Linked DNA regions of Homo sapiens: region 1 is linked to region 2. The links come from fine-mapping of genetic effects on gene expression. Tissue or cell type: whole blood. Region 2 holds a variant in brackets; the other region holds the start of a gene. All regions are shown on one strand. Distances are between the middles of the regions.

Region 1 (8,108 bases), 57 kb after region 2:
ATATTTAAACAATTTAAAAATCCATAAAAAAGAATGAAATCATGTCTTTTGCAGCAATGTGGCTGAAACTGGAGGTCATTATCTTAAGTTAAATAAGCTAGGCACAAAAAGACACATATCGCATGTTCTCACTTATATGTTGGTACTAAAAATTTTGATCATGTGGAAGTGGATGGTGGAAAGATAGATAGCAGAGACTGAGAAGGGTGAGTGTGGGGAGTGGGTGGTGGGGGGATGATGAAGAGAAGTGGGTTAAAGGGTACAAACATACAGTAAGATAGAGAAAATCAATTCAATTTTTGATAGCAGAGTAGGGTGACTATACTTAACAGGAATATATTGTACTCAGGCAGCAGACACACTGAAAACTCTGACTTGATCAGTATGCACTATATACATATAACAAAATTTCACACATACCCCATAAATTTGCACAAATAAAAAAAAGAAAAGATCAAAACACAGAAGCTCTCTGGAACTCACCATAGACGAACAGGGTGAATTCCTCCTCAGTGGTGACTTCAAAATTCCTTTGGTTTATCTGGGCTTTGTAGGATCCTGCATCATTCAGAGTCAGATTGCTGATGCACAGGGAGTAACTCCACTTGGTGATGTCTAGTCGGCCCAGGTAGCTTTTGACCATAATGGTTACATTTTCTTTGGGACGTGCGAAAGCAAGAGCATTTTTGGGACCAATCCAGATGACGTTCTCAATCTCTGTGTCTACTGAGATGTTTAGGGGGAGAGTCACGGAACCCCCTAGGATCCCTGACACCACTGTTGGGGCTGAGTCCTTTCCAGAGGCTCTTAGTCCTGCAGAGATAGAAGAGGGACTTGGAGGAGCAGCTAGACTCCTTGAGCTAGCCTTCTTTCTTTCACTCTGTGAATATACATTGGGCATAAATGTCAGATGCTGAGAAATGAAATGAGATTCTTGTCCTCCTTCTTCTAGGTCAATTGCCTAGCACAGTCATTAATTCCTCCATTCCCCAAACACTGTCTCCCTTAAAAGCAGCCACAACAATCTGTGAAACAGATCTTCTGGGTTTCTGTTCCAGTAGAGGAATTAGCCTTGTGACTTTGGGTACATTTCTGAATTTTTCAGTGAATCTTATCTAAAAGATTGAAATGCTCATACCTGCACCATTTTCTTCAAGGGATATGGTAAAAATGAAATGAAAGCAGGTTGCTGCAAATTGTGAAGAGCCAATGAAGTAAAAAGGAGCATATTTTTAAAAATATGGGTGGGTAGAGGGATGGTTAGATGGGCAGGCGAGTGATAAAGCAAGCAAAGTAAAACGTTTGTGTTAGAATCTAGGTAGTAGGCCTATGAATGTTCAGGGTAAATGCTCCAACTTTTCTGAATGTTTGAGAACTCTCATAGCAGTGTCGGGAACTAAAGGAGCTTCTCCTACCTCTACCTCACCCTTATTGTCCATGGCATCTCAGATTGACTTTGGTTTGGCCAGGTTTGGGGGTGGGAATAGCTGGTGGTACTAATACAGTTCCTGATTTCCTCATCTTAGGCAAGATCATATTCCTGATAAACATTGTTACCAAGGCATCTAGGAAGCTGGTATTTGGCCAAGGCAGTTAATTTTCTTGTAGGGACCCTGTGGGTGTCTTCTGGGTGACCCTAGCTTGGATTCCCAGATTCCAGGGCTTCCGAGGCTCTGGAGAGCACTTTTGAAATTCTAGACCAAAACAGATGGGTTTGGGACCCAGACTCCACCAGGAATTCTGGGTGGGAAAATAAGTAGAAAATGTTAGAGACAAAAAAGGAGCATAAGCATAGCCTGGAGGGGCGGAAGAAAGCTGAAGCAAGCTCTGAAAACCCAGAGGATACAGAATATGCAGACACTGGAAGGAGAGAGGCTGCTTGGTGCAGGTCATGGGGGTTCTCTGCTTAGACCTCCATCAGCCAAGCACTTGCACCTTGTGGAGAGGCAGCTATGGAGCATGCAGGGCTAGGGATCCTGGACATGAGAAGGTTGGGTCAGGTGGATTCTTTAGGCAGATTCAGGCTGAGTTGATGTGAGGTTGGTTTGAGGTTTTCTAAAAGAGAGCTCTTCCCATCTGGAAGAGACTGCTTACGATTGCTATGTGTGCATTAGGTACTTTATGTAAATTATCTCATTTAATTCTCATAACTATACTATAATTAGCCCCTTTTTACAGATGAGGAGCTGAAATTTAGAGAATTTAATCCACTTCCCTGAGATTACAGGGTTGATCAGTCACAGAGTCCAGATCCTATGTCCATGATGCCCCTGGAGTAGGGAGGCCAGGAGTACTGCCCATCTGTATCCTGGAAGCCCAGGAGCTGCTGGGTCTTGACTGGGTGCATATGACTCGTTTTGACTTCAAATTTTCTTACATCAGACAAAAACCATAAACAAAAGCCTCACAGACTCTCAGTGGAGGGGGCAGGATGTGGGCCTCACAGGGCAAATCTTGTTGCAGAAGACAGTGCAATGCAGCTCCCAGTACAATGACAGGTCCCCAGTACCAGTCATTTTATTTTGAATTGCACCGTAGGACAAATAATAAAAGAGCATTCAAAGATTGCAAAACTGAATTTGACTCACCTGTCTCTTAATAGTTTCCAAAGAATGCACGTAACAGTAATTATAATAATAACAATCATAGCTTCTGCCAACTATGTGCCACTATACGTGTGTGTGTGTGTGTGTGTGTGTGTGTATAGATCATCTACAATCTGTAAGAGTGTTGCATGATGCATCCTACTAACTATATTTTACACTTAAGAAATAGAGGCCCTCATCACTAATAAATGATGGAGCAATGATTTAATTTCAGATGTTCCTGATACTAAAGTGAGAGGGGTCTTTTCACTCGACTGCCTTTTAAGTTCCTGAAATGACTCTTTGGAGATACAAAAGCATCATCCTTTCAGACCAAAAGAGTGAGATTTGAGGTCATCCTAATCAGTGGAGCCAGACCAATGGAGATGCCTCTTTGCTCTGAACTGTTTGAAATTCACTGCATTGATCATTTGCGGCTTGGATGACCTTGAATGTAGCTTATTTCAGGTTTGCTCAACACAATCAAGGAACACCCCAAAGGTTGGAGGTAAACATAAACAGCCTTGCTGCTTTCTGTGTGTTTTGATGAGCCAAGATAAAATTGAAAGTGAAAAGAGGTCAGACTGGACCTCAGCTCTGAGGTCTAGGCTCCTCGTTCACCCATATCTGCATCTAGGAGTGTTTCTAAAGCTCCCTTCAGGCACCAACTGCCAACCCCCACTGCTCTCAGATCTCTAGTGCTACCTGCACCATCATCCCTGAAGCCCTGGAGAAAGCGGGAGCACAGAAGGACAGTAGCTGCCACAGTCCCAGGTGGCTGAGATCCTCTCTGGGGTACTGGATTGGCTCTATCTGCTGGACAGTGGGGTTCCGGGCCATGCAGCGGAGAGATGTTTCCCAGGAGTTGGGCCTTGATAGGGAGGAATAAGGTTGAGGAGAAAAGGATATCCAGATAAACGCCACCTTGCCCATGGTCACCTAACCGCGTCCAGGTCCCCAGTGAAACCTCAGTAATAAAGCCAGCATATATGATAACCAAGGCAGGATACATAGAAAGAAGCTCCAGAAGTTCTCTCCATCCCTAGGAAATTGCTAGGTGGCTTCTCATCAGGGGATTTTCCTGGATCCCTCTGTGGGTTTTATCCACACCATACAGGGAACAAACTCATTATATACTTGGCATTTCTTAGGAAAATGTGAGGGCAAGAGAAATGTAGTTTGAGCCCAGAGCTATTTGAGACCGGGGCTAGAATGTTACCCCCTTCATAGTGCACGAATATGCACACATGCAAAGTAATTTCTGGCAAGGAGATGAGTTTCCCGATTTTACCAACAAGAACTGGGCTCACGCCTGTAATCCCAGCACTTCAGGTGGCTGAGCTGGGCAGATCACGAGGTCAAGAGATCGAGACCACCGTGGCCAACATAGTGAAACCCTGCCCCTACTAAAAATACAAAGATTAGCTGGGTGTGTTGGCATGCACCTGTAATCCCAGCTACTCAAGAGGCTGAGGTAGGAGAATCGCTTGAACCCAGGAGGTGGAGGTTGCAGTGAGCCGAGATTGCGCCACTTCACTCCAGCCTGGCAACAGAGTGAGACTCCGTTAAAAAAAACAAAAAACAAAAAAAAGAATCTCCCAGGCAGGGAATGCAACTGGCCTCAGAAGAACCGCAGTAGCAAGAAGTGGTGGCCATAAAGTGGACTTACCCATGAGCAGGAAGAGGAGAGAGGTCTGTAGAACAGAAGAGAATATTTGCAGCTGACTCCTCTGTGGCTTACTGGAGAAAGGCCCAGGAGCCCAGTCATCTGTGTGACTCTTTGGTGCCACCATGATGATCTATTTTCAGAACTGAGACTGAAGGAGGATGCACTTACCACAGCTTCCGCACGTGTCACAGCTTCTGCATGTGTATATGAGTGTGTGTGTGCATGTGTATGTGTATGTGTGTGTGTCTCAGAGGGAGGGTTGTTTATACAAAACACCACAGACTCCTCCCATCTGCGCAGGCAGGTAGAGGTCCCAAGTCTATTCAGGGCCTCATTTGTGACTGATGTGGAGCATCACTTGCTTTGACATCAAGGGACTTGGGTTCTAAATTTGGCTCCTAAAGGTGACTGCTAAAGATCTGTACCTCCTGGCATTCATGCCTCTGTGTAATCACCTCTTCTTTAGTGTGGCCTGGATTTAGTGACTTGCTTCAAGTGAATAGAATGTGGCAGAGATGTGGGATGGGTCACTTCTGAGATTAGGTTACAAAAAAGCTGTGACTTCCATCTTGGGTTAGCATGTGTGTGCATATGCGCTCTCTCTTTCTCTTGCCCTCTCTCCCTCTCTGTCTTTCCCACTATCTCTGTCTCCCTACCTTACACTGAGGGGAGCCAGGTATTGTTTTGTGAGATACTTTAGGGAGAGGGTTCCAAAACAAAGAACAGAGGGAGGCCCCCAGCCAACAATCGGCGAGGAGCTGATTCCTCTGGCCAACTGTCCATGAGGACTGAGGCTAGCCAAGAATCACATGAGTGAGACTGGAAGTGGATCCTCCCCAGGAGGTCCTTGAAATGACTGCAGCCCTGGCTGACACCGTGATGTTAGTTGTGTGAGTACCTTAAGCCAGAGGCACCCAGCTAAGCCATGCCCAGATTCCTTATCAAGAGAAACTGTGAGATAATAAATGTTTGGTTTTTAAATTTTTTTTCAATTTTTTATTTTTCATCAAAAATGCTTATTGTTTTTAGCTGTGAAGTTTGGGGCAATTTGTTACACAGCAACAGATAACTAATACAGTGACCCAATACATTTTCTATTTTGCTCAAGGCAGTTTGTGCTAGCTTTCTGTCACATGCAATGAAGGACTTTTAATATGGACAAAGGCATCAGGGAGACTGCAATGGGGGTGGACATCGTATGTGACAGCGTAGAGGTGACTGAGTTGAAAAGGTAGGCTGGAGAATGGCATGATTCCCTATATCCTGACTTGGGAAACTGTCTTTTTCTCCTCCTTCTTCTTGTCAGTAGCGTAATAGCTGGCCATGCTATGGTTTGTGTTTCGGGCTTCAGGTCATTTGTTTACTTAGGCTGTAACATTAAGGGGACTTGGCAGGAAAACTTGAGGCTGGCAGAATGTGTAGTTTTAGCTAATATTCGATGAAAGCTTACAGAGTGCTAGTCCATCTTCTGACACTTTAACATATTCACTCATTTGATCTTACAATAGTTTTATGAGATATCTTTTATCATCCCCATTCTATAAATGAGAAAACTGAGGTGGAGAGGGGTTAAATAGCTTACTATAAGTTTTATAGTTAGTAAGGACTTGAACCCAGGAAGTCTGGGTTCAAAGGAAGAAGGGAGAGAGAGAGAGAAACCATTAAGATAACAGGCTTATGTCCATGGAAAGCATCTTTAGAGGCTGGTCATGATCTGATGTTGCACAATATTGAAAGTGACAGAATCTCGAAAATCTTTAAATTTTGTGCACTAGGAGCGTGTCTTGTTTCACTCTAGCCTTGGTCCTGTGACTAGAACATGGGCTGTCTAGAGGGGATTGCAGGACATACGGTCAGGAGAGGTTACCAGAGCCCAGATAAAGCATCCTGTTACCAAGCTAAAGGCAACAAGAATCCAGTAGGAGTAGGAAGCTTCCTGGAGCTGCAGAGTGGAGGGAGAATGGGTGGAAGGGATGAGCCTGGGGATGAGAAGACAGGTGCGGAAGCTATTGAAGGAGTCTGGGTACAGAACATGAGAGCAGGAACAGTCTGCATGGGAGGCGAGGGCAAAGGCAGAAGGGAATTCAGAGAGATTGGTAATAATAAAAATCATTACTAACATTTATTGGGTAATTACTATGAGTGAGCCTCTGTGTTTAGAACTTTACATATGTTTTCTCCTTTAATCCTAAGATAGACCCTATTTGGATGATACTCCAATTATCCCCATTTTAGAGATGAGAAAACTGAGATTTAGGAAAGTAACATCACTGAAATGACCTCCTTTGAAGTTGTGACCATAGGAGGACACAGCCTTATAATACACAAAATCCAATTTAAGTATTATCATTTAAGTATAGTAAAACCTAAATTAATATAAATTTTGGTATGATGCATTTGTTAAGTGTGCCCTGTCCTCACATGGGGAGGGCTAATATTCTCATCAGGACAGGGAGGCAAAGGCACTAGCATTGGGAATCAGGGAGCAACATCCAGTGATGCTGGCCCCGGCGTCTCCAGTGTTGTCCTTCTCAGTATACTTCAACCACCCCAGCAAGTGGGTGTGACTGACTGGAAAATTTTTGAAATCCCTGCTACTGTCCTTGGAGTCCCGCCAGCTACAGGCCCAGAATCACCCCTGTCAACTGGGCATTGCCTCCAGGTAGCATCAGACTCCAGCCTGGGTTGAGATTTGGGTCTGGCAGCCACAACCACATACTCAGCTGTGTTGCTTCACCACCAGCCCCCAACCAACACTTCATTCACTGTGCAATTAAGACGACCCTGCATTTTACACAATTGCATTTTTTGGACTTTATTTCTAATGTTGTCTTGACTTGCAGTATATATATGCTACTACAGATTGGAAGAATATGAAAGACTGTAGAATTTTGACAAGCTCAAAGCTTTTTACACTTAGATGGAAAGACAAATATATGTTAGGAGCTAAAGAAATTCAACATCAAATCAACTGCTGCAGCCACAGTAGAGGGAAGAATTAGGGAATGTCACAGTGTTCAAGTGGAATCTAGGGATATAGGCTATGAGACCAGCCTTTTAGAGGGTAGCAACAAAACAAGCAAAAAGTGGTGCTGCCAGCTGGGCACATTGGCTCACGCCTGTAATCTCAGCACTTTGGGAGGCCGAGGTGGGCAGATCACGTGAGGTCAGGAGCTCAGGACCAGCCTGACCAATATGGAGAAACCCTGTCTCTATTAAAAATACAAAATTATTGGGAGGCGGAGGCGGGCGGATCACGATGTCAGGAGATCGAGACCATCCTGGCTAACATGGTGAAACCCCGTCTCTACTAAAAAAAAAAAACAAAAAACAAAAAAACAAAATTAGCCGGGTGTGGTGGCACGCGCCTGTAATCCCAGCTACTGGGGAGGCTGAGGAAGGAGAATCGCTTGAACCTGGGAGGCGGAGGTTGCGGTGAGCCGAGATTGTGCCATTGCACTGCAGCCTGGGCAACAAGAGCGAAACTCCACCTCAAAAAAAAAGGGGTGCTGGTAATACCATTAGTTAACATGTCAGTGATATTTCTGGTCATTAAGCAACTTTAGCTAATTGAGAAGGTACCCCAGGAAATGGCTGTAAATGGGATGACATAATTGTTTCTTTTGTGGTTATGAATCTTTCAATCCTGGGAAAATAAGGAATACAAAATAGACATGTTCAAGGTAATCAGTTAGTATTTTTTAAGTATATGTATTGTTTGAGGAAATTTAGTTCATTAAAATTGTAGTAAACTTTGTTGCCACGGTTTGAATGTATTTGTCCCTCCAAAATTCATATGTTGGAAACTTTTTTTTTTTTAATGAGATGGAGTCTCACTCTATCACCCAGGTTGG
Region 2 (8,107 bases):
ACTGTAGCCTTGACCTCCTGGGCTCAAGCAATCCTTCTGCCTCAGCCTCCTTAGTAGCTGGGACTACAGGCATGTATCACCACACTTGGCTTATTTTTAATTTTTGTGTAGAGATGGGGTTTTGCTATGCTGCCTGGGCTGGTCTTGACCTCCTGGGCTCAAGCAATCCTCTTGCCTTGGCCTCCCAAATTACTGGGATTACAGATGTGGGCCACTGTGCCCAGCCAGGCCATTGTCTTCACAGACAAACCTCTCTTATTGAAGTGCAACATACAGAAAAGTACACAAAATTACAAATGTACATCTCAATGAGCTATTGTTAAATGAACACACTCTTGTGTCTACCACATGTTCTCTCCCATTCATTACTTCCTCTGTCTTCCATAAATATAGCCACAATTCTGACTTCTAACATCACAGATTTGTTTTGTCCGTATATATGGAATCAAACGGTATGCACTCTTGTGTCTGACTACTTTTGCTCAACATCTTATGAGATTTATGTATGTTATTATTTGTAGCAGATCATTTTCATGGCTGTATAGTATTTTATCGCATGACTATATCATAGTTTATTCACCTTTTCTATTATTGATGAACCTTTGGGTTGCTTTCAATTTTGTTTTTGCTATTATAATAATGCTGTGATGAGCCTTTTGTGCATGCATGTCTGTTGGGTATATCTCTAGGGGCAGAACCATGGAGTATGTGTACGTAACTCTAGCAGATGCTGTCAAACTGTTTTCCAAAGTGGTTGAACCAAATAGTGCATGAGAGTTCCATGCTGCTTTGGGGCCACTGGCTTTTGGTTCTGAAGGTCTGCAGATGGAAAATTAAATTGTGGAAATGTGGAGCTTGGCAAGAGGCCAAAGGCAAGGGAATTACAGCTCTGTGATTTCTCTGGTATCCTGCATGAAATTCTGACAATAGAGTCATTTTTAGGAGTTATGTGAGATGCATTGTTGAATTAATTAATTTAAACGGATTCATGAAGCCCTTGCTTGGGTTGTTCATTTTGCTGTTGTGACGTTTGAATTTCTTGTCTATTCTGCATATTAGTTGCCTGTAGGATTCATAGTTTGCAATTTTTTTTCCTATTCTATTGGTTGCCTTTTCACTCTGTGAATTGTTTCCTTTACTGTACATGATTTTTTTTTAGTTTGCTGTAATACCATTTGTTTATTTTGCTTCTGTTGCCTGTGCTTTTGAGGTCTTATTCATAAACTCTTTCCCCAGCCCTTATTATGCTCCAAGAACTATGCAAGGTTTTGTGGGGGAAACAAAGATGAAACAGATGTCTATTCTACCCTTAAGAATCTTTCAGACAGAGGAAAATGGGTATGTATAATTACAACTATAAGGGAAGATGGAAATGCTATGTGTCATTAACAGGCAAGATACATTTAGAATAAAAAAGGAGCTAAGAAGATGAAGATTCCTTCTAGGTAGGAACACTGGGGAACTGGCCTTGAAGAATAAATAAGAGTTTAGGAGGTAGGTACAAAGTAGAAGGACAATTGAAGCAGAGGAAACAGCTCAGAAAAGCCAGGGTTGCATGGGGTTTGGATGGGAAACAGGAAAGGGAGATGCACTTGTTATCATGGAGAAACAATATCACATATGAGATGATTTGGTTAACTGATGCAAAGAGTGGGACTTGGGCTAGGTGAGTTTTGACAGAGGTAAGGGAGTTGCATTGCCTGAGGAAGAGAGTTAATATGGTCAGTATGAAGCTAAATAGAGAGGAAGAAAGAAATGGGATGTGGGCCCTATAGGATACTTTATCTATCTTATGATTTTGCCCTGACTAGAGCTGGATTGCCCCAGTACTTTTGGAATCTCACTGGACTCTGTTCACTTAGTCCCCAGCAGGTACATCTTTTGATGCCTTCACCCCAAGCCTGGTAGCACAAGCCCTAGCTGAGAAAACCTTAACATCTATTTGTTGGCTGGTGGAAATTCCACTTGCTCTGAGACCCTCCCGTGCTCCTTCTCCCAGGTGCTCAGGCCCCACACCTTCCTCCGACTGGCAGGTCCAGGTTGGAGGAAGCTGAGCTGACTCAGAGCTCTGCACATGGGCTCAGGGCTGAGCGGGACTCACTGCTGGATCAGATTGTCTCCTTCACCATCCTCTGTACTTGTCTCCTTGACCATCCTCTGTTCTTCCTGAGGCTGCAGTGGAGTTAATCATCTGCCCTCTGCCCTCCCTTTCAGAGTTACTAGTTCACCTCATCCGTTCTTAACCACAGGAAGGTGGCCCCCAAAGCTGCTGAGCAGTAGCAACAGCAGTGGCAGGGGCCCGGGGGCCTTCCTGGACTGTGGCCTCTTTCCTCTAAACAATTTTCACTTGTTGGGTCCTCCTCTATGCCTCACTAAATGTGTGAGAACTTGTGTTGAAGTTATGTTTTCGTAGTAGCATTTCATCTCCCCTATCTGGTGTGTGTACCCCTCTGGGACAGAAACTGAGGTCTTTCTGTATCAGTCACAATACCCTGGACATAGTGACTTGTCTACTTGCCTTTTCACCGTATCTGCTTTGCACCCCTGCCCTGGCACCCACCCCTTCCAGGCCGTCCATGGAAACTCATTCCAACCATCTTCCTCCTTCCCACACTGGACTGTTGGGGGCTGCAGGAGAAAATTCAGCAACAAAGAGCAGCTACAGATTCGTAATCTCCAACCCCAGCTGGACTCTCAGTGTCCTGGGAATCCTCATTTCTGGCCCACAGCTTCTCCTGTTCCCCAAAAGGTGGGAGAATTCCACACCTTCGTCATCTCTTTCAAGGCCCTGTTCCACTATCTCAGCCTCCACAAACCAACAACCTCCTTCTTTAAGAAAACAGAAGCACAAGTTAGGGATTCCACCAACCTTGCCAACAAGTCTCCAGTGTCAATGTACTTCATCTACTCCTGTAAATGGCCACATTTGCCTCTGCTGAGGGCAAGAGTGTTCTTGCCCTGTCCTTGACCAATACTCCCCTGTGTGCTCAGGGCACCAGAGCTTCTTTCAGAAGTCACCTGGGACCTGCTGTCTGTGAAGACATCCCTCATCTTTCTTCAGCTGCTCCTTTTCTGTGGGCTTCCTACCTTTAGTACAGTTTCCTTCCAGTTGAAAAATCAAAACAACACCTGGTGTTCTCTCTAGCTCCTTTTTATTTGCAGACAAACCAGTCTTAAATGTATAAACTAATATAATATTACATAAAAATAAAATATAACGGCCTAATTTTTAAAAAGACCCCAAAGGCAGTATAGCATGAGGACTGTAGATCACACATTTCATTCTTTAAGTATTTAGAAGTCTATGGCTGGGAGTGGTGGCTCACGCCAGAACTTTGGGAGGCTGAGACGGGTGGATTACTTGAGGTCAGGAGTTCAAGACCAGCCTGGCCAATATGGCGAAACCCTGTCTCTACTAAAAATACAAAAAAAAAAAAAAGAATAGCTGGGGGTGGTGGCAGGCACCTGTAGTCCCAGTTACTCATGAGGCTGAGACAGGAGAATCACTTGAACCT[G/C]GGAGGCAGAGATTGCAGTGAGCCGAGATCATGCCACTGCACACCAGTCTGGGTGACAGAGCGAGACTCTGTCTTAAAACAAACAAACAAACAAAGAAGTCTAGACAATAACTTAACCATTTTCCTGTGTGATTCCTATTCAGTTTTATAATAGCAGAGAACAACCTTCTTCTACATAGCGCTCTACATTCTGATCTACTGGTGGATTATATGGGAGTTTACGTTATTTTTCATTACACCGTATATTTATATTTAAGTACCTTTTAATACTTGTGCTACCTCTCACAATTTTATAAAAGATAAAAATAAAGTGAAACCACCACTAAACACCTGAAAATTAAACTCATGTTCCATCACCCCATTCTCCAAACCTGCTCCATCTTTACCAGACCCATAAGCCACACGTGTGTTTTGTGTTCCCTTAACCATGCTACTGCTGGGTCCATAATACCCACCTTCCCTGTTCCTTTCTGCATACACCAGGCAGGCCTTGGCTTTTTCTTTCAATGGCAGCTCCCACCCACCGCCTCTGGGCAGCCACTCCTAACTCTGCAGGGCAGAGGAAAACATGCTTTCCTTATGCTTGCCTCACACCCTGGGCACACCTCCATAGCACATTCCATATTGCATTTCAGTTGGCTGTTTTAGGTCTATCTTCCTTTTTCACTTTTTTTTTTTTTTTTTTTTTTTTTTAGGCAGGGTCTTGCTCTGTCACCCAGGCTGGGGTGCAGTGGTGCAGTCATGGCTCACTGCAACCCCTGCCTCCCAGGCTTTTCTGATATTTAGCTAAGAGTTGGGTTTAGCTGAGATGAGTGAGGAAATCTACAAATTCACTTGCTATGGTAATGTTTCCACAATGGGCAAGTCATATTTTGCTTTTATCAAAGTACATCTTAGTTAATAGTCAGAACAGTTGAGTGAGAGGTAGTCATTACTCTTTTTCTGCTTTTTTACCAAGATACAACTCACAGCTGTGTGCACAAAATTTAAATCAACAGCTTGATGAACTTTTATATGTGTAAGTACATATCAAAACTACCCACATCAAGATGTAACACATTTCTAGCACCCAGTCATTCCTTTTTGGCCCTTCAAGTTGATAACCCCCCTCCTGCAAGGGTAATCACATTCTAACCTCTCTCACCATATATTAGTTTTTCCAGATTTTAAACTTTATATCAGTGAAATAATTCACTATGTACTTTTTGGAGTCTAGCTTCATTAATACTCATCATTGTGGTGAGATCCATCCACATTATTGCCAGGAAAAGTAGCTTTTCTTTTTCATTGCTGTGTAATATTCCTTATAAGACTATAACACGATTTATTTGCTCATCTAATCGTGATAGACATTTGGGTTTTTTCTCATTTTGAGTTATTATGACTAAAGCCATTATTAACACTCTTGTACATATTTTTAGTGGATATAAACACCAGATTTTCTTTTTTTTTGAGACGGAGTTTCACTCTTGTTGCCCAGGCTGGAGTGCAATGGCATGATCTTGGCTCACTGCAACCTCCGCCTCTCAGATTTAAGTGATTCTCCTGCTTCAGTCTTCCAAGTAGCTGGGATTACAGGTGTGCACTGCCACGCCCAGCTAATTTTTTTTCTTTTTTTTGAGATGGGGTTTCACCATGTTGGCCAGGCTGGTCTCAAACTCCTGACCTCAGGTGATCCGCCTGCCTCGACCTCCCAAAGTGCTGGGATTACAGGCATGAGCCACCATGCCTGGCCCAGATTTTCTTGTGTACAAATTCTTCTGGATCAAAGGGTATATGTAAGTTTAGTTTTAGAAGATACCGTAAAATAGTTTTCCAAAGTGCTGGTACCAATTTACACTCTCACTAGCAATAAATGAGAATCTCAGTTGCTCCCATCTCTGTCAACCCTTGGAATTTTCACATTTATTTATTTACATTTATTTTCGAGACCAAGTCTCAGTCTGTCACCCAGGCTGGAGTACAGTGGCGTGATCTTGGCTCACTGCAACCTCTGCCTCCTGGGTTCAAGCAATTCTCCTGCCTCAGACTCCCAAGAAGCTGGTATTACAGGCGCCACCACCGTGCTCTGCTAATTTTTGCATTTTTAGTAGAGATGGGGTTTCACCATGTTGGCCAGGCTGGCCTCGAACTCCTGGCCTCAAGCGATCCACCCGCCTCGGCCTCCCAAAGTGCTGGGATTACAGGCTTGAGCCGCTTCGCCCAGCCTTCAGACCTTTAAATGTTAGCTATTTTGGTGGGAATGTGAAATCTCATTATTCTCTGATAACTAATGTTGTTGGGCACCCTTATGCATGCCTATTGGCTATTGGATATTCTCTTTCCTAAAGTGCCTGCCCAAGTCTGTTGCTTTTTTTGTCATTATTGTCATCAGTGTATTATTGATTTCCAGTCTATTATTGTCATCAGTCTATTATTGATGGAATTCTTTATATACTCTGGATATGAGCCCTTTTTCAAATGTATGTATTGCAAACATTTTCTCCCAGTCTTTGGCTTGCTTTTTCACTCTCTCAATGTTGTCTTTCACCAAACAGAAGTTCTAAGTTTTAGTGAAGTCCAATTTATCAATATTCTTTTATGGTTAGTGATTTATTTTTGTGTGTGTGTGTCCTGTTAAAGAAACATTTGTTGTCTGGGTGCAGTGGCTCATGCCTGTAATCTCAGCGCTTTGGGAGGCCAAGGCGGGTGGATCACTTGAGCCCAGGAGTTCAAGACAAGCCTTGGCAACATGGTGAAACTCTATCTCTACCAAAAATGCAAAAATTAGCCAGTCTCATAATCTGGTCTCAAAATAAACATAAAAATAGATTAAAATGTAAAAATAAAAAAGGAAACATTTGTCTATCTCAAGATGTAGAAGATATTCTCTTGTGCTTTTTCCTGGAAGCTTTATAGGTTTAGCTTTCATATTTAAATTTATGATTTGTTTTAAATTAATTTTTGTATATGATATGAGGGAGATATCAAGGTTTTTTTTCCTTATAGATATCAATTTGACCAAGCACCATTTATTGAAAAGATCAAGTATGTGTTGGTTTGTGTGATATTGTGAAATATATATTTGGTTTTCAACCTCCTTTCCTGGCATACAATTCCTAAAATTTTTAGAAATTCCGAAGTGATGTCTTTTTGTAGGCTAATGAGGTGACCGATGGCTGGCAGCCTGTAGGCAGCTTCGGGATAGGGGCCGGTCACCAGAAAGACCAAGGCAGGGTTGGAATATTGGACTCTGAGCCCGTCCCCAACCTTCAGGAAAAGGAGAGGGATTGAAGGTTAAGTTGATCACCGATGGCCAGTGGTCAATCATTCCCATTTATTGAGGCCTCCATAAAAACCCAAAGAACAAGGTTCAGAGAGCTAAACATGCGGAGGTTCCTGGAGGGTGGCACGCCCTGGGAAGGCATGGAAACTCTGTATCCCTTCCCCTACACCTTGTCCTATGCATCTCTTCATAGGTACCCTTTGTAATAACCTTTATAATAATCCAGTGAATGTGTTTCCCTGAGTTCTGTGAGCCATCTAGCAAATTAATTGAACCCAAGGAGGGAATAACGGGAAACCCAGTTTATAGCTAGTTGGTCAGAAGCGCAGGTAAAACAATCTGGAGCTTGCAGTTGGCATCTGGTGGATATCTACAGGTAGATAGTGTCAGAATTGAACTGAATTAGAGGACATCCAGTTGGTGTCCACTGAAGAGCTGATTGCTTGCTTGGCACGTGGGAAACTCCCCACACGTTGGTCACAGAAGTCTTCTGTGTTGATTGTTGTGGTGTGAAACCAGAGGAAAAACAGTTAGTGTTTTTCCCACACACAGGGTCTATTTCTAGACTATTATATTCCATCGACTACTTTTCAATCCTTGCAATACTGGAATGCTATCTTAATTTCTGAAGTTTTACAATATATCTTGATATTAGGTAGTGAAAACCTTCTAGCTTTGTTCTTCATCAAGATTGCCTTGGCTATTCTATGTCTTTTACATTTTCATATAAGTTTTAGAATCAACTTGTTAATTTCTATAAAAATAACCTGCAATAATTTTTATTGGAATTCTATTGAATCTATAAATTAATTTAGGAAGAATTGACATCTTAGCAATATTAAGTCTTCCAATAAAAACCATGGTATAGTCTCCTGTTTATTTAGCTCTTTAATTTTTTCTCAGCAATCTTTTGTTGCAATAGGTGTATAGGTCTTAAATATTTCTTCTTGAAATTATTTCTATATATTTTATCTTTTTTGTGCTGCTGTAAATAGTATTGTTTTCAAAATTTCATTTTTATCTGTTTGTACTAATATATAGAAATAAAAATGATTTTTGTATATTGACCTTATATCTAGCAATTTTGCAAAACTGACTTCTACACTCAAATAATTTTTCATATAGTCCTCTTGGTTTCCTATATACACAGGTATATAGTTTGTGAATAATGACAGTTTCACATATTCATTTTTTTTTTGAGATGGAGTTTTGCTCTTGTTGCCCAGGCTGGAGTGCAATGGTGCCATCTTGGCTCACTGCAGCCTCCGCTTCCCGGGTTCAAGTGATTCTCCTGCCTCAGCCTCCCGAGTAGCTGGGATTTCAGGTG

What was found. PIP is the estimated chance that this variant, and not a neighbour inherited with it, causes the effect.
Region 1: LY9 starts here. The variant in region 2 is fine-mapped to the expression of LY9 in whole blood (TOPMed, PIP above 0.99).

The regions. Positions count from the first base shown.
Region 1 is chr1:160,792,458-160,800,565 of GRCh38, reverse strand. It overlaps LY9 (lymphocyte antigen 9), which reads right to left and starts at 4,392. Exons shown (of 10, transcript NM_002348.4): 1 at 4,255-4,392; 2 at 484-813. The coding sequence starts at 4,378.
Region 2 is chr1:160,849,884-160,857,990 of GRCh38, reverse strand. All of the region lies in intron 1 of CD244 (CD244 molecule), which reads left to right. Among named protein-coding and RNA genes, the nearest start is that of CD244, 9.0 kb to the left of the region's middle. RefSeq lists an enhancer at 2,554-2,603. The variant G/C (reference allele first, on the strand shown) is at 3,516.